Regions from separate parts of the Homo sapiens genome. Here region 1 is linked to region 2. The links come from fine-mapping of genetic effects on gene expression. A gene starts in region 2. The other region holds a variant in brackets. All regions are shown on one strand. Distances are between the middles of the regions.

What was found. PIP is the estimated chance that this variant, and not a neighbour inherited with it, causes the effect. A credible set is the group of variants that fine-mapping cannot tell apart.
Region 1: its variant is the best candidate, but not a certain one, in a credible set for the expression of RBL2 in blood mononuclear cells (TOPMed, PIP 0.88).

What each region holds. Positions count from the first base shown.
Region 1 is chr16:53,387,029-53,403,422 of GRCh38, forward strand. No RefSeq gene overlaps it. Among named protein-coding and RNA genes, the nearest start is that of RBL2, 39 kb to the right of the region's middle. The variant C/A (reference allele first, on the strand shown) is at 13,357.
Region 2 is chr16:53,431,309-53,439,408 of GRCh38, forward strand. It overlaps RBL2 (RB transcriptional corepressor like 2), which reads left to right and starts at 3,163. Exons shown (of 22, transcript NM_005611.4): 1 at 3,163-3,488; 2 at 7,708-7,838. The coding sequence starts at 3,249. RefSeq lists a silencer at 3,218-3,437 and an enhancer at 4,048-4,157.

The DNA of each region.
Region 1 (16,394 bases), 40 kb before region 2:
TTCCCTTTCAGTGTTAACTGTGAACACCTGGCTGTCTCTCTTCATGAATATTTATGGAGATAAGTGTTGGGCATTGTAGTAAGGCGAAAAGAGAGATGAAAAGATGAATGGATGAAGAGACAGAAAGAAAACTGGCATTGTTTAGTAATAAATAGGTTTAATAACAAAAAAATTAATGTTACTCAAATTTAAAAAGAAAAAGTAACTAGAGAACTAAAGAAATTGCTGTTCTTCAAGAGAACTATATTGAACAAGAGGAAATCCTTGTTTTGTAATATTTCTCTATGAGTGAAAGAAAGAAGGTAAGACAGTTATGAGAGACTCAGTATGTTTGTGTCCACATGATTAGACATTCAACCTTGCTTACATTTCTTCTCCCTCTCTTTTGTCCTCTATGGACTGTTTTTTAAATTGTTGTAAAATTATTTTTACTTTGTCAAGATTTACTTATTTAAATTTTTGTTCCGGACCCATATTTATTCCTGTAACTGTTTTTCTCAATTTAACATTTAAATTCTCATTATACCATGTGTTCTACATTGATCAATTAAATGGTTCCAACCACCCTCTTACAAGGACAAAAAAGAAAAAAATATGTCTGGTCTTAACAACAATGTAGTAAGCCAAGAAAGAAAAATAAAATGTATAAAGATTGGGGTAAAAAAACAGCCCTCATTACCATTCATTCTGTAGTAATTTTATTCCCTAGTTCTTCATTGTGATCCTCCCTTTTTTCTTGGGTAGGGGGGTGGATTTAAGTATCAAGTAGTTAAAATGTTCTCCTCTCAACCTGTATCTTGAATAATGAGAAGAAAAATGTTCTTCTCTTTGTCTTTGCACGTTTGAGAATCCCTACTAAATTTATTAGCTCCATAATACATTTTTGTTCTCAGAGTAATTCATAGCTTTTCATCTCTCTTTTTAAAAAAATCATGTTGGGTGGTGTGTATTTCATTAAATTCATGTCCTTATTGAATTACTCTATAGCACAAGCATTTTTAGAAGATTTCTTGTATTCCTTGGATCTTAGTTTTCCCAGAATGTGTTCTTCCTTGGATGTTTTTCATACCATGTTCTTTCTCTCCTGTATTGGTGTTATTTCTGTGCATAATGATAATGACAGGATCCTTTTTAAAAAATATTATTGATCCTAACGTGGCTGGTTTTAGCCAGACCTCTAATTGGCTGTGATTAGTACAGATGGGTTCTTGTAGACACTCCTCCAAAAATATTTGTGACATCTGTCTTCTAAGCTGCATCTAATGCATTTGATGTTGCATTCTCTGTTCCTTTTTAATAGCAGAGGCCTTGGGGTAGGGGATGGGAGAACCTGTCTAAGAAAACCTTTAGCTCTTTGTTGTAGGCCTGAAGACTGTTCTTTCCCCTCTCAACTTTGAATAAATACTCCTGGGGTCTCATTCTCCCAACTCTACATATTGCCTCAAAAATTGGCAAGCCCCTGGCAGCCCCTCCCAGTGTCTGCAGAAGAGTAGTGTATAAGGGCTTCTGCTCTTGATGGTGTATTTCCTTGATTTTTCCTCTCAAGCTGCCTACTCTACCTGCATCTCCCCATCTTTTAACAGTGCCTATTAAATGATGGCCCATCAATATTGTTACTGTAATTCCTAAACTGATTTTCAAAGCATTCTTATTTTTTTCTATCAGAGATAAATAAATCATTTAGGAAGAGATTCATTTGAACATTCTTGTTTATAAGCCAAAGGGTTTCCAAAGAGGAATAGTTTGAAGATTGACAAAAATGGGGATAATTTGTGAGAGTGAATGCCTGGAGAGTATCAGGGAACATCTAGAACATACAATAAGAGGATACATGGAAGGGCAACTTTTCCTTTGAGACAGGAAGGGAAAGACATATGGATGAAATGAGTGAAATTATACAGAGTTGGGATTTCCTCTTGATGGCTTCTTCTTCAGGTAACCACAGAGTCTGAGCACTATCAAAAATTCTTCCTGGGCCAGGCATGGACTCCTAGTGGATTGCCTGAGCTCAGGAGTTCAAGACCAGCCTGGGTAACATGGTGAAACCCCATCTCTACTAAAAATACAAAAAAATTAGCCAGGCCTGGTGGCATGTGCCTGTAATCCCATCTACTTGGGAGGCTGAGGCACAAGAACCACTTGAACCTGGGCGGCGGAGGCTGCAGTGAACTGAGATCGTGCCACTGCACTCTAGCCTGCGTGACAGAGCAAGACTCTGTCTCCAGAAAAAAAAAAAGGGGGGGCATGGTGGCCGGTGCCTGTAATTCCAGCACTTTGGGAGGCCGAGGCAGGTGGATCACCTGAGGTTAGGAGTTCAAGACCATACTGGCCAACATGGTGAAAAGTTGTCTCTACTAAAAATACAAAAAAGTTAGCTGGGTGTGGTGGTGGGCACCTGTAATCCCAGCTACTCAGGAGGCTGAGGCAGGAGAATCACTTGAACCCAGGAGGTGGAGGTGGCAGTGAGCCGAGATTGCGCCACTGCACACCAGCCTAGGCAACGAGAGTGAAACTCCATCTCAAAAACAAAACAAAACAAAACAAAACAAAACAAAACAAAACAAAACAAAACAAAAAAACTTTCTGTACATCTCCTCCACCTTTCCTGTGACTATCAGCTTTACACATTATGTCAGGAACATTTTCTGGATAGCTAAAAGGGGGTGAATATGCTTATATTTTAGGAGCCAGTGACATTCAAGAATGTTGTTGTAGACTTTACTGAGGGGGAGTGGAGATAACTGAGCCCTCCACAGAGGAATCTGTACAGAGAAGTGACACTGGAGAACTGTAGGAATCTAATCTATGTGCGTAAGAGCCGTTTTCTTTTGTTACTGAAAATCTTCCTATTTGAGGGTCTTTGCGTCCTCAGTTATTAACAGCCATGAGTCTTCATAGCATTTTACTCTGCTGGGCTTATATGGTCCTCAAAACCAAAGGTTATAAAATCTAGTTGGCCCCCAAGACACAAGATGTTCCTAATACATTTTCCCCAGGTAAATTGCCTTTATTTTTAAAGAGTTGATGTTAGGAGCTTTCTATACTACTCCTCCCTTAAACCTCACAGTAGCCATCATTCAGTGAGCCAAACTTTAAGGGGTTAGGGCTGAATTTTCAGATATTTGTTATATCTTTCTTTCCCCATGGGTGGGCTGTCATCCCTTCAAAGCCAGTGTTATCTCCCAGCTGGAGCTAGAAGAGTTGTGGATGATGGGCTGGGCACCCCTAACAGCCACTTGTCCAGCTGAGAAATAGAAGCATGATGTTCTTGGAATTGGTCAATGAAGAAGACATTTCTTACAGTGTTGTCTGAGGAATTCATCTCATAGTCATATCTATTTTCACTTATTCTTTATCTTTCTATCCTATTAGTTTCTCCTTCATATTTCTGAGAGGAAGATGTGTTCTTCCTTAACTAAGTTCACATTTCCTTTTGTTTTCAAACTTCCTTCCCTTCTTTTCTCACTCATCTCTTCCCACTCGTCTCTTTACTGTGGCTTGCAAGCATGATGACTCCTTCTCACTCCAGCATTCTCAGCTTTGTCTTTCACAGCCTCCTTTCTTTAGTCATTTAGCTTTTCATGACTCTTTCACCCAATAAATAGAAATTCACGTACTGTACATTGTCAGATCTCACTGCTTCAGAGCAAGATTTGGTTAAAACTTCCTAGAAAGGAGTTTAGCCACATGTATCAAGAGTTTTAATAATACCCTTTTAGTCATTCTTCTGACAGGACCCCTGTCTAGTAGATATCATAGAGGTCAACAATGAGTCATGAACAGTTCTGTTCCCTTGGCATTGTAAGTAACTGATTTCAATATCATGGCATTGTTTATGCAAATTATGAAATATCTACACATTGAAAAATTATAATGTTATTAGAAACATATTCACAGAAATTTTCAATGATGCGGATAGTGCATTATGTAAAGAAAGTAAACTATGAAATTTTAACTACACTTAAATTTAGCAATAGAAATACTTAAATCAAATAACACTTATTACATGTTGACTCTCCTCCCACCTTTAAATGCAGTTATTATGATATGCTATTAAGTGTAATTTTTCTCCTTATTTTATACCCAGGCATTTCCTAAGACTTGCTATTTCTGTCCCTCCTTCCTACTTCAGTGTACTGACATCCCTGTGTATTTTGGTTCTTTTGCCCCCATTTGTTCAGCAAACATTTATTGGGCACCATGCAGGAAAGGATCTAAAGGGAGCACTCCAGGATGTTGAGGGTAGAGATTGCTGGTGTTGAAGTTGCAAGTCATTTTTCTTTCCTTCTTTATTCTCTTTCATTTCTTCTAAACTTTCCACAATGGGCATATTTTCATTTAAAAATCTAACAGAAAGAAACACTCTGTATGATATATACTGTTACCATGTGCATTTTTCCATAATTCCTTGCTGATTAAATTTCTTTTTGCTTCTCAACCATCATTTTGGTTTCTAAATACTGTCCTTCTACTGAAATTACTTATTCAGAGGCAACCATTAGATTTCTTCTAAAAAATAGGCTAGGCTTTTTCCAGTTTTCTTCATCTTCAGTTTTTCTGACATACTTTGCCATTTTGATTATTGACTTTGGGTGTAATAAAAATGTATTGTGGAAATTTTAGAAAATACAAATAAGCAAAAAATAAAATTTGAAATCAGTGATCTCATGTCTTGGAGAGAGATAGCTCATGGGCATATGTTATGTTGTATTTATTATCTACTATCTAGAATAATCATTACTCATCATATAAAATAACTGATAGGCATTTAATTTTATGGATTTGCCATTACTGATGAAATTAGGTACCTGGGATTGAACATTTAGGTTATTGCCAATTTCTTTCCTTTATAAATGATACAGATTTAAACATCCTTGTAAATGTCTTGCACATTTGTTCCGTCAGAGCTTAGTATAAAATTCTTAGAAAATGAACTTTTTTGCAGCGAAGATTATGAATAACAATCACTTAAAGCTTTTGTTAACATGTTGTTGTTTTTTTTTCAGAAGGGCAATACTAGTTTGTTTACCTATCCCTCAGTTATACCTGCATGTGACCTGGAACACGTGGCAGTTCATGGTTTTTCATTATATTTTTATTACTGCTGAATTTTTACATTTTTCAATGTAGTTACTGACCCTTTACTTTTTATATTTTATAAGCTGTCTGATCTTCTCATTAGCCCATTTTTTTCATTAATGTGAAAATATGTTTTCAGGATACAGAGCTGCACTGTACAGTACTAATGCATTTGGCTCGTAAGGCAACTGAAACATGGCCAGTTCTCACTGGGACATGCTATGAGTATAAAATATACCCCAGATTTTGTAGACTTAGTAAGAAAAGAAAGACTGTAAAATATCTCAATACCTGTTATGCTGAATCCCTGTTTAAATGATAATATTTTGGATATATTGGGTTGAATAAAATATATTCTTTAATTTTACCTGTATTCTCTTACCTTTTTAAATGTGGCTACTGGAAAACTTAAAAATAAATATGCGCATCACAGCACTTGTGGCTCTCATTATATTTCTGTTGAAAAGCACTGATACAAATAGTCAATTCCTGTATATTTTGACTACTTTTGTCTTTTAGCTTTTTTTGAGTTCATTATTATTACAAAAATAAAACATGCTTGATTAAAACATTCAAACCATATAGAAATTCAAAAAAATACAAATCTGCTATAAAAAATCTTTCATCCCTCTGCAGTTCCAATGATAGCCAGTATTAAGCCATTGAGTACAGAATCTGGGATATGTTTTGCTTATCATAAGGTTTATGTGTGAAGTCACATTATCCCTAATTTTCTACCCTCCAGAGGACTAAAAACCCAGCCCTATCTTCTGAATTATTCCTTCCCTCCACCTAAGTTGTATAGGCCACTTAGCACCATGAGGATTTCTAAACTTTGAAAAGTAATGGCCTTGTTTTTTTCAGAAGAAAGCGATTTTATTATGATAGACCATTTTTTTCTAATACAATAATGAAACACTACTTATTTGTGTTAATGATACCAAGTTGAGTCTTCTACTCATCTGGGGCTTTGCTGATGCTAAGCACTGTTATGTATTGTTAAAAATGAAGCTTCTGTCTTTCCAAGAATTTGTCCTAGGCTCTAGCTAACTGCTAACTCAGTTGAAGTGGTATTGTATTTGGTGGTGACTATATCTTGTGCATTGGTTTGTATATTTAGTTTATTTATTCAACAGGGATCTGTTGTTCAATGTGGTTGATTTAAATTCCAAGCTTTAATTTTGTAATTTAAACAACATACATACACATGTGTGCTTGTAAAGACAGAAGTCTGCTATTGGTCAGAATCATATAGACTGTGTCACAGATAAGGAAGCACCTGCTACTGGTTGCTTCATTACTATGGAGAAGACCTTGCCAAGTAAGTGAAACAAGTAACGGATGGGTTTAGGATGCAGATTTGCCACTATTGCACAGGAGAAATCCCAGGTTCTATGTGGACGATGGGAATTTGGATTGAGCTGATAAGGGTCAGTCTAGGAAAAGTTCCCCTAACATTCTTCAGATTTTTCTTATTGCATACTTCACAACTTGTCTCAATTATTGGTCGAATCTATTTTTTTCTTCCTGATTTGAGATCCCATCTTTATCAAGTGCTGTATTTCCATTAATTCATTCAATAAATGTGTAGTGAGTCTTGCATCTGGAGATATAACAGTGAAGAAGACCTAAAAAGTGCTTTCTTTCAAAGAGCTTACATTTGATCTGGGGTAAAGGGGTGCAAAAATATGGAGGAGACAAACAATAAATAGAACTTTAGGTAATGATGACTGCCTTAGTGAAAACAAAATGGGATATTGTGAGAAAGTAACTACAGTGAGTGACTACTTAAGACTGGGTGGTAAGGGGGGGCTTTCTCAGATGGTATCATTTAAGGTGAAACATGAATGACAGAAGGGACCCGGCCTTTCAAAAACCTGGTATAAGAGTATTTCAGATGCTAAGGCAAGAGTAAGCTTGGTGAGGGTGGTACTAGAGTGCTAAGAAGTGAGATCCGGCCAGGCGCGGTGACTCACGCCTGTAATCCCAGCACTTTGGGAGGCTGAGACAGGCAGATCATGAGGTCAGGAGATCGAGACCATCTGGCTAACACGGTGAAACCCCGTCTCTACTAAAAATACAAAAAAAAATTAGCTGGGCGTGGTGGCGGGCGCCTGTAGTCCCAGCTACTGCGGGGTGGGGGCTGAGGCAGGAGAATGGCGTGAACCTGGGAGGCGGAGCTTGCAGTGAGTGGAGATCGCACCACTGCACTCCAGCCTGGGCGACAGAGCGAGACTCTGTCTCAAAAAAAAAAAAAAAGAATTGAGATCCAAGAGATAGAGAGGGATTGGGTCTCATAGAGCTATGGGAATTCAGGTGAGGATTTGAGATAGAAGGGAGACATCTGGATTATGGGGAGGCAAGAAGATCCTCAGGAGACCTTTTGGGGTAGTCTAAGTGAAAGATGATGAGGGCCAGGGAAGTGAAGACAGAGATAAATAGATTTAAGACACAACAGGGCAGGATTTGATAAAGTTGACAGGAATCTTCAATTATTAAATGTAGAAGGTAAGTTAAGAAAGGGATATAATACTTCTAAGGTTTTGGTTTGAGTAACTGTGGGGATAGTAGTGAAATTGACAGAAATGGGGAAGAACATAAGAACATGTTTTTGGGAGCTGCAAATCAAGAATTCTGTTTTGCACATGTTAAGTGTGAGATGTTCATTGTACATCTATATGAGTGTGTCAGATAAACAGTCGGGTAAAGGGCCAGAGTTCAGGAAAGGAGCAGGCATGGCGATGAATTTGGAAGTCCTAGTGATATAGATGGTAATTACAGCCACAGTACTGGATGCTGAATGAAATAGATAAGAGGGATTCCAGGACACACCTGTGGGTCAGCCCATTTGTCTGGGCCTTCTGTTATTCTGGGTTACCTCTAATCACTAGCTAAATTTCTTGACATTATTTCTTTTGGATCTTTATGCGTATATTTACCTTTCACCTGATTAAAAAACCTGCAGAAGCTTTGCATGGCACGTCAACATCTCCTGCAATTTCAGGGCTCTTTATAACCTGGCCTTCCATAATCTAGCCCTTTTCCATCTTAGCCAATCATCCTGACATCCTCTGTGGATACACTTCCTTGTGTTTGAGCCTGTTACGTGTCTTTCATCTTTTTCTGTTGTCTTAGAGTTGAATTTAGATTCCACTTTCCTCATGAAACATTTGACTTCTTCAGTCTAAACAGACCACTCACATCTCTAAACTATTACTGTAGTTACAGTCTTACATTTAAATACTTATTATTTTTTATTTTCACAGATTATAATAAACATGCTTTCTTTTCAGTCCAAAAGAAAAGTTATTTGAATAAAATATACATGTGGCTTACAATCATACATAGAAAAGCTCAATATCACTGATCATTAGAGAAATGCAAATCAAAATAACAATGAAAAACTCTATATCTAAATGGCCTAAGCATCCTTTAAAAAGGCAGAAATGGTTGGAATAGGTTAAAAACAACAAAACTACATGCTGCTTTTAAGAAATGAATTTTAAACATAAATTCACAAATAGTATAGACAAACATGAAAAAGATATGGCATGCTCATCTTAAAAGGAAGCTGGAGCAGCTATGTTAATAACAGGCAAAGTAGATTTCAGAGCAAAGAATATTGCTAGAGGTAAAGAAAGAAAAATGATATAATCATCTCAATCGATGCAGAAAGGCATTTGATAACATTTAACATCAATTCCTGCAAACAGTATTAGAAAGCATCTTCCTGAATCTAATCAAGGACATATACAGATAAAAGCTACAGTTAACAGCAGCTGACATTATTCTTAATAGTCAAAGAATGAATGCATTCCCCCTATGGTTAAAAAAAATGGATGCCTCTGTTCTATTCAATAGTATTGGAGTTTCTAGCCAATGCAATAAGGAAAGCAGAAGAAATAAAATACATGGAGAATGGCAGGAAGAAGTAAAACTGTCTTTATTTGCAGATTATGTGATTGTTTACATAGAAAATCCCATGGAATTTACAAACAGGCTGCCTGGCTTAGTGTTAAAGGCGTGCCCAACACATACCCAGAGGCCCTTGGCAAAAACTGGGAAACTTCGCTTCCCAGTGCTAAGGGAAATCTCTCCAGTCATTTGCTGACCACTAAGCGAACTGACCCAGGACTTCATTACAACAAAAAATACAGACTTTACAGATTTAGTTCAGAAATATTACTAAAACGATGCTAAATAATCACAGTAACAAAACCTGGGGCAGGTGGGCAAATCTGATTTCCAGAGTTGCCATGTAATTTAAAGTGTCCAGTTTCCAACAAAAATATATTAAGAAGCATGCAAGTAAATAAGAATATATGGCCCAAAAGGGGAAAAGCAGTCAGTAGAGAACTATTCTTGAGGAAATGCAGACATTGGACTGACTAGACAAAGACTAAGTTGGCTATTTTAAATCAGTTATTTCAAAGAGTTAAAGGAAACCATGTCAGAAGAACTATAGGAAAGTATGAGGGCAGTGTCTCACAAAATAGTAAATATTGGATCAGGAAAAATAATTAATCAGTACTAGGCCTAATACCTGGGTGATGAAATAATCTGTACAACAAACCCCCATGACATAAATTTACCTATGTAACAAATCTGCACATGTACCCCTGAATTTAAAGTTTAAAAAAAAGAAATAGAAAATATTTTTTAAAAAGAATAAAATAGAAAATCTGGAATGGACAAGCACAATAAATGAAATTAAAAATTCACTAGATGGGCTAAATAGCAGAGTTGAACAGTCAGAAAAAGAATTAGGGAACTTAAAGTTAGCTCAGTTAAGATTATATAATTAGAGATGATGGCCAAATAGGAACAGCTCCAGTCTACAGCTCCCAGCAGGAGCGACGCAGAAGACGGGTGATTTCTGCATTTCCATCTGAGGTACCGGGTTCATCTCACTAGGGAGTGCCAGACAGTGGGTGCGCGCACCATGCGCGAGCCAAAGCAGGGCAAGGCATTGCCTCACTCGGGAAGTGCAAGGGGTCAGGGAATTCCCTTTCCTACTCAAAGAAAGGGGTGACAGATGGCACCTGGAAAATCGGGTCACTCCCACCCGAATACTGCGCTTTTCCGAAGGGCTTAAAAAACTGCACACCAGGAGATTATATCCCGCACCTGGCTCGGAGGGTCCTACGCCCACGGAGTCTCCCTGATTGCTAGCACAGCAGTCTGAAATCAAACTGCAAGGTGACAGCGAGGCTGGGGGAGGGGTGCCCGCCATTGCCCAGGCTTGCTTAGGTAAACAAAGCAGCCGGGAAGCTCGAACTGGGTGGAGCCCACCACAGCTCAAGGAGGCCTGCCTGCCTCTGTAGGCTCCACCTCTGGGGGCAGGGCACAGACAAACAAAAAGACAACTGTAACCTCTGCAGACTTAAATGTTCCTGTCTGACAGCTTTGAAGAGAGCAGTGGTTCTCCCAGCACGCAGCTGGAGATCTGAGAACGGGCAGACTGCCTCCTCAAGTGGGTCCCTGACCCCTGACCCCCGAGCAGCCTAACTGGGAGGCACCCCCCAGCAGAGGCAGACTGGCACCTCACACGGCCGGGTACTCCAACAGACCTGCAGCTGAGGGTCCTGTCTGTTAGAAGGAAAACTAACAAACAGAAAGGACATCCACACCAAAAACCCATCTGTACATCACCATCATCAAAGACCAAAAGTAGATAAAACCACAAAGATGGGGAAAAAACAGAGCAGAAAAACTGGAAACTCTAAAAAGCAGAGCGCCTCTCCTCCTCCAAAGGAACGCAGTTCCTCACCAGCAACGGAACAAAGCTGGACAGAGAATGACTTTGACGAGCTGAGAGAAGAAGGCTTCAGACGATCAAATTACTCCGAGCTATGGGAGGACATTCAAACCAAAGGCAAAGAAGTTGAAAACTTTGAAAAAAATTTAGAAGAATGTATAACTAGAATAACCAATACAGAGAAGTGCTTAAAGGAGCTGATGGAGCTGAAAACCAAGGCTCGAGAACTACGTGAAGAATGCAGAAGCCTCAGGAGCTGATACGATCAACTGGAAGAAAGGGTATCAGCGATGGAAGATGAAATGAATGAAATGAAGTGAGAAGGGAAGTTTAGAGAAAGAAGAATAAAAAGAAATGAGCAAATCCTCCAAGAAATATGGGACTATGTGAAAAGACCAAATCTACGTCTGATTGGTGTACCTGAAAGTGACGGGGAGAATGCAACCAAGTTGGAAAACACTCTTCAGGATATTATTCAGGAGAACTTCCCCAATCTAGCAAGGCAGGCCAACATTCAGATTCAGGAAACACAGAGAACGCCACAAAGATACTCCTCGAGAAGAACAACTCCAAGACACATAGTTGTCAGATTCACCAAAGTTGAAATGAATGAAAAAATGTTAAGGGCAGCCAGAGAGAAAGGTCGGGTTACCCTCAAAGGGAAGCCCATCAGACTAACAGCGGATCTCTCAGCAGAAACTCTACAAGCCAGAAGAGAGTGGGGGCCAATATTCAACATTCTTAAAGAAAAGAATTTTCAACCCAGATTTTCATATCCAGCCAAACTAAGCTTCATAAGTGAAGGAGAAATAAAATACTTTACAGACAAGCAAATGCTGAGAGATTTTGTCACCACCAGGCCTGCCCTAAAAGAGCTCCTGAAGGAAGCGCTAAACATGGAAAGGAACAACCGGTACCAGCCGCTGCAAAATCATGCCAAAATGTAAAGACCATCGAGACTAGGAAGAAACTGCATCAACTAACGAGCAAAATAACCAGCTAACATCATAATGACATGATCAGATTCACACATAACAATATTAACTTTAAATGTAAATGGACTAAATGCTCCAATTAAAAGACACAGACTGGCAAATTGGATAAAGTCAAGACCCATCAGTGTGCTGTATTCAGGAGACCCATCTCACGTGCAGAGACACACATAGGCTCAAAATAAAAGGATGGAGGAAGATCTACCAAGCAAATGGAAAACAAAAAAAGGCAGGGGTTGCAATCCTAGTCTCTGATAAAACAGACTTTAAACCAACAAAGATCAAAAGAGACAAAGAAGGCCATTACATAATGGTAAAGGGATCAATTCAACAAGAAGAGCTAACTATCCTAAATATATATGCACCTGATACAGGAGCACCCAGATTCATAAAGCAAGTCCTTAGAGACCTACAAAGAGACTTAGACTCCCACACATTAATAATGGGAGACTTTAACACCCCACTGTCAACATTAGACAGATCAATGAGACAGAAAGTCAACAAGGATACCCAGGAATTGAACTCAGCTCTGCACCAAGCAGACCTAATAGACATCTACAGAACTCTCCATGCCAAATCAACAGAATATACATTTTTTTCAGCACCACACCACACCTATTCCAAAATTGACCACATACTTGGAAGTAAAGCTCTCCTCAGCAAATGTAAAAGAACAGAAATTATAACAAACTATCTCTCAGACCACAGTGCAATCAAACTAGAACTCAGGATTAAGAATCTCACTCAAAACCGCTCAACTACATGGAAAGTGAACAACCTGCTCCTGAATGACTACTGGGTACATAACGAAATGAAGGCAGAAATAAAGATGTTCTTTGAAACCAACAAGAACAAAGACACAACATACCAGAATCTCTGGGACACATTCAAAGCAGTGTGTAGAGGGAAATTTATAGCACTAAATGCCCACAAGAGAAAGCAGGAAAGATCCAAAATTGACACCCTAACATCACAATTAAAAGAACCAGAAAAGCAAGAGCAAACACATTTAAAAGCTAGCAGAAGGCAAGAAATAACTAAAATCAGAGCAGAACTGAAGGAAATAGAGTCACAAAAAACCCTTCAAAAAATTAATGAATCTAGGAGCTGGTTTTTTGAAAGGATCAACAAAATTGATAGACCGCTAGCAAGACTAATAAAGAAAAAAAGAGAGAAGAATCAAATAGACGCAATAAAAAATGATAAAGGGGATATCACCACCGATCCCACAGAAATACAAACTACCATCAGAGAATACTACAAACACCTCTACGCAAATAAACTAGAAAATCTAGAAGAAATGGATAAATTCCTTGACACATACACCCTCCCAAGACTAAACCAGGAAGAAGTTGAATCTCTGAATAGACCAATAACAGGCTCTGAAATTGTGGCAATAATCAATAGCTTACCAACCAAAAAGAGTCCAGGACCACATGGATTCACAGCCGAATTCTACTAGAGGTACAAGGAGGAACTGGTACCATTCCTTCTGAAACTATTCCAATCAATAGAAAAAGAGGGAAT[C/A]CTCCCTAACTCATTTTATGAGGCCAGCATCATCCTGATACCAAAGCCGGGCAGAGACACAACCAAAAAAGAGAATTTTAGACCAATATCCTTGATGAACATTGATGCAAAAATCCTCAATAAAATACTGGCAGACCGAATCCAGCAGCACATCAAAAAGCTTGTCCACCATGATCAAGTGGGCTTCATCCCTGGGATGCAAGGCTGGTTCAATATACACAAATCAATAAATGTAATCCAGCATATAAACAGAACCAAAGACAAAAACCACATGATTATCTCAATAGATGCAGAAAAGGCCTTTGACAAAATTCAACAACGCTTCATGCTAAAAACTCTCAATAAATTAGGTATTGATGGGACGTATTTCAAAATAATAAGAGCTATCTATGACAAACCCACAGCCAATATCATACTGAATGGGCAAAAACTGGAAGCATTCCCTTTGAAAACTGGCACAAGACAGGACTCTTCTCACCACTCCTATTCAACATAGTATTGGAAGTTCTGGCCAGGGCGATTGGGCAGGAGAAGGAAATAAAGGGTATTCAAATAGGAAAAGAGGAAGTCAAATTTTCCCTGTTTGCAGACGACATGATTGTATATCTAGAAAACCCCATCGTCTCAGCCCAAAATCTCCTTAAGCTGATAAGCAACTTCAGCAAAGTCTCAGGATACAAAATCAATGTACAAAAATCACAAGCATTCTTATACACCAACAACAGACAAACAGAGAGCCAAATCATGAGTGAACTCCCATTCACAATTGCTTCAAAGAGAATAAAATACCTAGGAATCCAACTTACAAGGGATGTGAAGGACCTCTTCAAGGAGAACTACAAACCACTGCTCAACGAAATAAAAGAGGATACAAACAAATGGAAGAACATTCCATGCTCATGGATAGGAAGAATCAATATAGTGAAAATGGCCATACTGCCCAAGGTAATTTATAGATTCAATGCCATCCCCATCAAGCTACCAATGACTTTCTTCACAGAATTGGAAAAAACTACTTTAAAGTTCATATGGAACCAAAAAAGAGCCCGCATCACCAAGTCAATCCTAAGCCAAAAGAACAAAGCTGGAGGCATCACACTACCTGACTTCAAACTATAGTACAAGGCTACAGTAACCAAAACAGCATAGTACTGGTAGCAAAACAGAGATATAGATCAATGGAACAGAACAGAGCCCTCAGAAATAATGCCGCATATCTACAACTATCTGATCTTTGACAAACCTGAGAAAAACAAGCAATGGGGAAAGGATTCCCTATTTAATAAATGGTGCTGGGAAAACTGGCTAGCCATATGTAGAAAGCTGAAACTGGATCCTTTCCTTACACCTTATACAAAAATCAATTCAAGATGGATTAAAGACTTAAACATTAGACCTAAAACCATAAAAACCCTAGAAGAAAACCTAGGCATTACCATTCAGGACATAGGCATGGGCAAGGACTTCATGTCTAAAACACCAAAAGCAATGGCAACAAAAGCCAAAATTGACAAATGGGATCTAATTAAACTAAAGAGCTTCTGCACAGCAAAAGAAACTACCATCAGAGTGAACAGGCAACCTACAAAATGGGAGAAAATTTTCGCAACCTACTCATCTGACAAAGGGCTAATATCCAGAATCTACAATGAACTCAAACAAATTTACAAGAAAAAAGCAAACAACCCCATCAAAAAGTGGGTGAAGGACATGAACAGACACTTCTCAAAAGAAGACATTTATGCAGCCAAAAAACACATGAAAAAATGCTCACCATCACTGGCCATCAGAGAAATGCAAATCAAAACTACAATGAGATACCATCTCACACCAGTTAGAATGGCAATCATTAAAAAGTCAGGAAACAACAGGTGCTGGAGAGGATGTGGAGAAATAGGAACACTTTTACACTGTTGGTGGGACTGTAAACTAGTTCAACCATTGTGGAAGTCAGTGTGGCGATTCCTCAGGGATCTAGAACTAGAAATACCATTTGACCCAGCCATCCCATTACTGGGTATATACCCAAAGGACTATAAATCATGCTGCTACAAAGACACATGCACACATATGTTTATTGCGGCATTATTCACAATAGCAAAGACTTGGAACCAACCCAAATGTCCAACAATGATAGACTGGATTAAGAAAATGTGGCACATATACACCATGGAATACTATGCAGCCATAAAAAATGATGAGTTCATGTCCTTTGTAGGGACATGGATGAAACTGGAAATCATCATTCTCAGTAAACTATCGCAAGAACAAAAAACCAAACACCACATATTCTCACTCATAGGTGGGAATTGAACAATGAGAACACATGGACACAGGAAGGGGAACATCACACTCTGGGGACTGTTGTGGGGTGGGGGGAGGGGCGGAGGGATGGCATTGGGAGATATACCTAATGCTAGATGACGAGTTAGTGGGTGCAGGGCACCAGCATGGCACATGTATACATATGTAACTAACCTGCACATTGTGCACATGTACCCTAAAACTTAAAGTATAATAATAATAATAAAAAGATTATATAATTAGAGTAACAGAAAGAAAAAGATAATGATTGAAAACTTCCAAAATTTGATTTTTTAAAAACACAAAAAGCTGAACAAATTCCAGAGAGGATAAACTCAGAGGTACCTCATGATAAAAAATTTGATAGACGTAACATCATACAAAGTATGGTTGAAAACACCAAAAGCTCAACAAATTCCAGAGCGGATAAACTCAGAGATACCTCATGATAAAAAATTTGATAGACCTAACATCATACAAAGTATGTTCTCCAACCACAGTGGAATAAAATTAGGAAACAATGACAGAAGAAAAGTAGAGAAATTCATAAATATGTAGAAATTAACCAACACACTATTCAAAGGACAGTAGGTCAAAAAAAAATTAACAAAGGAAATTAGAAAATACCTAGAGATGAAGAAAAAGAAAACACAGCAAAACCTATGGGATGCAGCTAAAGCAGTGCTTAGCATGAAACACACAGCTGTAAGCACCTATGTGAGGAATAAATCACC
Region 2 (8,100 bases):
TTAAAACAATTTAAGTTTTTCTCTTAGTTGCTAAAAGAAAAACTTTGGACAAGTTAACAGTTTAAGCAAACAACAATTCATGAATTGGGCACCACTTAAAACAAGAAGATATTCAGAGCGCTTCTGCAGGTGAGCAGTAAGCTTTAATAGAAAAGTAAAACAGTTACTTGATTGGCTACAGCTGGGTGTTTGCCTTATTTGGGTGTGAGGGCTGGGCCCGGTGGCTCATGCCTGTAATCCCAGCACTTTGGAAGGCCGAGGTGGTTGGATCATTTGAGGTCAGGAGTTCAAGACCAGCCTGGCCAATGTGCTTAAACCCCGTCTCTACTAAAAATACAAAAATTAGCCGGTGTGGTGGTTGGCTCCTGTAATCCCAGCCACTCTGGAGGCTGAGGCAGGAGAATCGCTTGAACCTGGGAGGCAGAGGTTGCAGTAAGCCGAGATTGCATCATTGCACTCCAGCCTGCGTGACAAGGCAAGACTCTGTCACCAAAAAAAAAAAAAAAAAAAAAAAAGGAAAATCCCTAATTAGAGGCTAGTTGGCAGTTTCTGATTGGTTAAGCTTATGTTTTGTTTTACTGTTGTCTTACTGTTTACACTGAATTCTGGTTTGCTTACATATAAGCTCCAGCTACAGAGACAGATGATATCAGGCTCATGGCCTCTTTATTTGCTTTGACATAGTAAAGTGTTGATAATGATTTCCAAAGGAAGAAATATCATTATTTTAAAATCAATATTCCCAGTGTATATACAGGTAAAATACTAAGATTTTAATACACTTATTATTTATTAATTTATTTATTTATTGAGATGGAGTTGCTCTGTCGCCCAGGCTGGAGTGCAGTGGCATGATCCCAGCTAACTGCAGTCTTTGCCTCCTGGGTTCCAGCAATTCTCCTGCCTCAGCCTCCTGAGTAGCTGGGATTACTGGCACCAGCCACCACTCCTGGCTAATTTTTTGTATTTTTAGTAGAAATGGGGTTTCACAATGTTTGCCAGGCTGGTCTTAAACTCCTAACCTTAAGTGATCTGCCCGCCTTGGCCTCCCAAAGTGTAGGGATTACAGGCGTGAGCCACCGCGCCTTGCCAAATTATTTATTATTATTTTTTTGAGACAGGGTCTCTGTTGCCCAAGCTGTAGTGGCATGGTCACAGTTCACTGCAGACTCCCCAGGCTTAGGCGTTCCTCCCACCTCAGTCTCCCAAGTAGCTAGGATTACAGGCGTGTACCACCACTCTGGGTTAATTTTTCTATTTTTTGTAGAGACAGGGTTTCACTATGTCGCCCAGGCTGGTCTCGAACTCCTGTACTCAAGCAGTCCTCCCACCTTGACCTCCCAAAGTGCTGGATTTACAGGTGTGATCCACAACGTCCAGCCTATATACTTAAGATACTTCTAAACCATTTGTGTTCAACTTCTGTTCTTGCCCCATAGTCACCTTGAGACTCATCACTTAGCCAACTCCAAAAGCATTGCTGATTACTGTGAATTTTACTAAGGTTTTCTTAAGAGGGTTCCATTGTCTCAAAATTGTTCCTGAAATATCCTGTTACCTGTCTACCTGATTTTCTCCTATCTTCAGAGTTCCATTTCCTGTCCTCCCGCCTGTCATTATACCTTCCATAAGCCCCTACTTTTGTCCCAGCACTTTTCCCTCTGTCAGTTTACATATCCCACCAAGCAAAACAAAAATAGCAAAACAGTAATGCCTTCTGAATCCTCAAATTGCTCAATCCTCAGATTGCTCCTCAATCTGGAAAATGTTTTATATCAAGCCCATTTATAAATCAAGGATTGGCAATTTAAAAAATTAAAATAAAGAAAGGAGAATTGGAAATAAAATGAATTGGCTGGGCACGGTGGCTCACGCCTGTAATCCCAGAACTTTGGGAGGCCGAGGTGGGTGGATCACTTGAGGTCAGGAGTTCGAGACCAGCCTGGCCAACATGGTGAAACCCTGCCTGTACTGAAAATACAAAAATTAGCTGGGTGCGGTGGCGCACACCTGTAATCCCAGATACTCAGGAGGCTGAGGCAGGAGAATCGCTTGAACCCAGGAGGCGGAGGTTGCAGTGAGCCGAGATCGTGCCACTACACTCCAGCCTGGGCAACAGAGCCAGACTCTGTCTCAAAAAAAAAAAAAAAGTTTAATTCACGCAGAGCCAGCTGAACGGCAGACAGGAGTTTGGTTATTCAAATCAGCCTACCAGAAAATTCGGAGACTGGGGTTTTTAAAGAATGACTTGGCGGGTAGGGGGCCAGGGATTGGCGAATGCTAATTTGTCAGGTGGGAGGTGAAATCACAGGGGGTTGAAGTGGGCTCTTGCTGTCTTCTGTTACTGAGTGGAATTGCAGAACTTGTTGAGCCAGATTATGGTCTGAGTGGCGCCAGCTAGTGCATCGGAATGCGCGGTCTGAAAAGTATCTCCAGCACCAATCTTAGGTTTTACAATAGTGATGTTATCCCTGAGAGCAATTGGGGAGGTCAGGAATCTTATAGCCTCTGGCTGCAAGCCTCCTAAATCATAATTTCTAATCTTGTGGCTAATTTGTTAGTTCTACAAAGGCAGACTGATCCCCAGGCAAGAATGGGGTTTGTTTTTGGAAAGGACTGTTACAATCTTTGTTTCAAAGTGAAATTAGAAATTAAATTCCTCCTGTAGTTAGTTAGGTCTTCGCCCAGGAATGAACAAGGGCAGCTCGGAAGTGAGAAGCGTGGAGTCATTTAGGTCAGATCCCTTGCACTGTCATAACTTTCTCACTGTTAGGATTTTTGCAAAGGCAGTTTCGTGAACGTACAGAGACAGGCCCTTGCTATTATCCCTATTTTTTAGATAAGGATATCCAGGCGATGAGGAAGTTTTACTTCTGGGAACAGCCTGGATACGAAACCTTCACACGTCAGTGTCTTTTGGACATTTTCTCGTCAGTACAGCCCTGTTGAATGTTCTCACGGTGGGGAGGTACGTGTTTAAAATGCGGGGAAGGTGCTTTTATTTCACCCCTGGTGAAACTAGGGGAGCTAATTTTTTTAAACATGATTTTTGGCCCCCTTGAACCGCCGGCCTGGACTACGTTTCCCAGCAGCCCGTGCTCAAGACTACGGGTGCCTGCAGGCGGTCAGCGTCGTTTGCGGCGGCGCAGGCGCGGTGCGGGCGGCGGACGGGCGGGCGCTTCGCCGTTTGAATGGCTGCGGGCCCGGGCCCTCACCTCACCTGAGGTCCGGCCGCCCAGGGGTGCGCTATGCCGTCGGGAGGTGACCAGTCGCCACCGCCCCCGCCTCCCCCTCCGGCGGCGGCAGCCTCGGATGAGGAGGAGGAGGACGACGGCGAGGCGGAAGACGCCGCGCCGCCTGCCGAGTCGCCCACCCCTCAGATCCAGCAGCGGTTCGACGAGCTGTGCAGCCGCCTCAACATGGACGAGGCGGCGCGGGCCGAGGCCTGGGACAGCTACCGCAGCATGAGCGAAAGCTACACGCTGGAGGTGCGCTCGCGGGCGGAGGGGCGCTTCCGGCCTAGTTGGCGTGAACCGGTGCCTTCCGAGCCGCGTCGCGCGCCTCGAGAGACTCTCGGGCGGGTTGCGGGCTCCCAGCCCCGAGAGGGGTGGGGACTTCCTCTGCGCTATTCCGAGGCTCTTAGCCGCTCCGAGGGCTAACCCGCTCTCGCCGCGCTTTCCTGCGGCTTCCGAATGGGGAACGCGTCTTGCCCTAAAGTAGCACAGCAAGGCTGAGATCGCGCTGGGGTCCCGTTGAGGAAAATGGGTGTGTGTGGCCCATCTGACCCCCCGCCCGCCTTGTTAGTAGAATGAACTAGTGTCGTTGTCAAGACCACACGGACAAGGGGAGGGGACTTGCCCTTATTTGCACCGCGATTAACCGGGTTGTGGCACCTGGGTCTCCAGGCGTCTCCGTCTGTTCGCTTCCCCCTGTTAACCAAATTGCCTTTGCCCTGGCGTTGCGGGCGTTTGAGTCAACGTGCTGATGCGTTTTGGGCTGTGTTTACGTCTGTGTAAACAAATTAATACTCATTTCCCCCCAGGCCAGATGAAATGAGCCCTCCGCCGACCCGGATGTAGACACATGCCCCCATTTGTCACTAGGATCAGGACTGTGGCTACCTCGAGGGCTTTTTGGTCACCCCGGGCATTGCACAGGACTCCTGTTGTTGTTGCGATCCGGGTGTGTTAGGTCGCAGCCTTCGGACAGGGCTTGCAGATGAGAAAAATGGCCATTCTAGCCAGTGAGTGTCAGCTTTGTATGCACCTCCCCTTCATGGGCCAATGGGAAGTGACACGGAAGTACGGATTGTTTATCAGCTGTTTGACTGTGTGTGTGGCATTTAAACCTGAGGCCATTTGATTTCTCAAGTCGTTTTATAATTAATTTGTAGAAAGAGTCGGGCAAATAGGTCCAGGATGCAAAGCCTAACCAAGGTATTATTTAAATATGATGTTTTTGGCTATGTGTACTGATGAGTGAGGTTATTTTTAATTTGTATTTGCATTAATAGAATTTTAATTCAATTACTAGTTCCCTCTTTGAATTGTTAGGTCTGCAGAAGATAGTGTATGGTGGCTTTAGAACCCGACAGACCTGAAACCGCTGGAAAAGTTCAGTATGGTGATCTCTAAACTGGAGATATTTGTGTTTACCTCACAGAGCTGTTCTGAAGATTAAATAAGGCAATAATGTAGTTTCTGGCACATAAAGCACCCATATGGACAGTGTTTTCAAGTTTACTAAGCTCTTTGTATATTTACATGATCTGGCTGAGTAAGCTATGTTCCTATTCATCTCTCAGTGCCTTTCTGTAGTCTGGCAAAGAGAAGGACTGGTTGGCTTTTTATGTTGTTTTTTGTTTTTTGGGTTTTTTTTTGGTAAATGGCCTTAAAGGCTTCCAAACAAGCTCTTATTTTACCCTCAAGATAATCCTGTAAATCAGATAGAACAAGCATTATCGCCATTTATTTGAGGTATTTCAACTCATAGCAGTTAAGTTGTATGAAGTCTAGTGATACATGAGCAAGTATCACGTAATAGCTGGTTAGTAAATTATTTTTGAAAACATGTTTGATTACTCAATTCTTTTGATTACTGAGACTTTAGTTTCAGCTTCTTAGCCCAGTTTATTCAGTAAATGATTTACTCAGTAAAATATTCATCAAATATTTCTTGAGCACCTATTACTTGCTACACATTGTTCTAGGTGCTGGATATAGAGCAGCAAACCTGCTCTTGTGGGGCTTACAGTGAGGTACGCTGTGACAATATGGGATGTCATTCTCATGGGAGTGCAAGGGAAAATAAAGCTCTTATGATGTTTAATACAGAATACTGGTTATGGAATTTTAACTTGATTTCTTGTATTTTCTGTGCATTTTTAACCTGTAACTCATTCTCACAGTCCTCAGCCAAGAAAATGCAGCCTCTGAGACTGTTAAGTAATTTCCCCACTGTGTTATAGCTACTGTATGGCAGAGCCGGAATTTGAAACCAGATCTATTTGACCCTAGAAGATGTGACCATGAGATGTTAATTTTGAGGATAACTTTTTTAGTATTATGGAATTTTCAACATATATTTTTTAGGACCAAAGATAAACTAGGCACAGAGTCTACTCTTTGCATAAATTATTTAAAAGAGCTTCGCGCTCCATTTTGTCATCTAAGCACTGTAAAATTCTCACAAGACTAATTCTTCTTTTTAGGAACGATATAGTTGTAAACTTTCTATTTTTTTTCTTTTTTTTTTTCTCCCTCCACCATCCAAGTAGTTGTGAATTTTCTAGAGCCAAAATAGAACATTATAGATTATCTTTTAAACCCTTTATTGAAGCAGAGGATAATGCTGTGACCGACTTAACTTTATGCTTTCTAAGAGATATTGATATAGTAGAGAAATGCAGTAGTTATGCATCTAAATTTGCTTTTACATCATAAATCAAGAATATTATGAAACCATCTCCCAGAGATATATGTGATACACAGATCTTGGCTGTTTTTTTTTTTTTTACAAAAGAACATCTATGCTATTGATACATATAAGTGGGTTTGTAAGACAGTCTATGTGTAAATGTGAAAAAAGGAAGAATTTCCAGTTCTTCTCATTTTCATTTAGACCAGTAATGAATACATTGAAGCTAAAGGACATCTTCCATCCTTCCTCGCTTTTATAGGGAGAGGAAAGTTGTATCACTTCTTGAGTAAAAAGAATTGTGACGATCTTTTACAAACAATGCCTTAAAAATTATTATTTTTGAATGATATCTGGTAGTGGATCCACAATAGTCTCATTTGGTTATACAAATAAATTTTATGTATTCATGTATGTGTTTTGATTAGGTATAAAATTAGTGGCTGAATATCCATTCAAGCTTAATTTTGTATTTCTATCACTTTTCTAGATTTTGAGCAAGATTAAAAATATAAACAATAGGCCAGGCGCAGGGGCTCACGCCTGTAATCCCAGCACTTTGGGAGGTCTAGGTGGGCGAGTCACGAGGTCAGGAGATCAAGACCATCCTGGCTAACACATTGAAACCCAGTCTCTACTAAAAATACAAAAAATTAGCTGAGCGTGGTGGTGGGCACCTGTAGTCCCAGCTACTCAGGAGGCTGAGGCAGGAGAATGGTGTGAACCTGGGAGGCAGAGCTTGGAGTGAGCCAAGATGGAGCCACTGTACTCCAGCCTGGGTGACACAGTGAGACTCCATCTCAAAAAAAATAAAAAATAAATAAAAATAAACAATAATATTGTTTGCATTACTATGGCTATATAGCAAATTGCCTTAAAACTTAGGGGCAGAAAGCAATTTGTTTTGGTCACAGGTTCTGTGAGTAAGGAATTCAGGCTGGGGACAGTGTGGATGTCATGTTTCTGCGTCAAAATGACTGGTACCTCACCTGGAAGACTTGAGCAACTAGGTACTGGCACAGCTGGAGCTCGTTGGGCATCTCTGTATGTTTGTTCCATGTGGTCTCACCAGCATGGTGATCCAGGGTAGCTAAATTCTTACATGTTGGTTCAGGACTCCGAAGGCACATGTCCTAAGAGAGAGAACCAAGTGGAATCTATACTGCCTTGTATAATCTTTTAGAATTACATAGTTTCACTTCTACCTCTGCAATTATTGATAGAGACAGTTAATCAGTGTGAGGGAACGCAGACCCTTGCCCAGGTCCAAGGTGAGGGAACCCTCTCTACCTCTCAGTGGAATAATGTTAATGTCACATTATAAGAAGAGCCTACGGGGCTGGGTACAGTGGCTCACACCTGTAATCCCAGCACTTTGGAAGGCCAAGGCGGATGGATCACTTGAGGCCAGGAGTTCAAGACCAGCCTGGGCAACATGACAAAACCCTGTCTCTACAAAAAATACAAAAATTAGCCAGGTATGGTGGCGCACTTCTGTAGTCCCAGCTACTTGGGAGGCTGAGGTAGGAGGAGTGCTTGAACCTGGGAGGTGGAGGTTGCAGTGAGCCAAGATTGCGCCACTGCACTCCAGCCTGGGTGACAGAGCAAGATTCCATCTCAAAAAAAAAAAAAAAAAAAAAAAAAAAAAGAGCGTATGAGATAGGGTCATCATTGAAACTAAGTTTCCCACAAAAATATAAACAACACTTTCAATTTAAACATACTTTTAAAAATATTGAAATATTTATATGTAGCTTTTTAACTAAAAATCAATTTTCTTTTCTTTTACAGGGAAATGATCTTCATTGGTTAGCATGTGCCTTATATGTGGCTTGCAGAAAATCTGTTCCAACTGTAAGCAAAGGGACAGTGGAAGGAAACTATGTATCTTTAACTAGAATCCTGAAATGTTCAGAGCAGAGGTAACTATGTTAGAGTTTGACAAGTAGAGTATGGCTAATGTAAGCTCATAAATCATAGTGATAGTAAGAATTATCTCTGTTTATCATTTTCTGAGCATTTGTACCTGTGGACTGGTGAAATTAGATGCTAAAACTAGCATCTAATGATTTTCCTTTCTTTATATCACAGTTAATATCCATTATATTTTACTTCTTTGGTGAAAATATTTAAATTTTAATGTTTTAGGCACTTGTATGGCAGAATTTATTTTTAAAGTTTAGG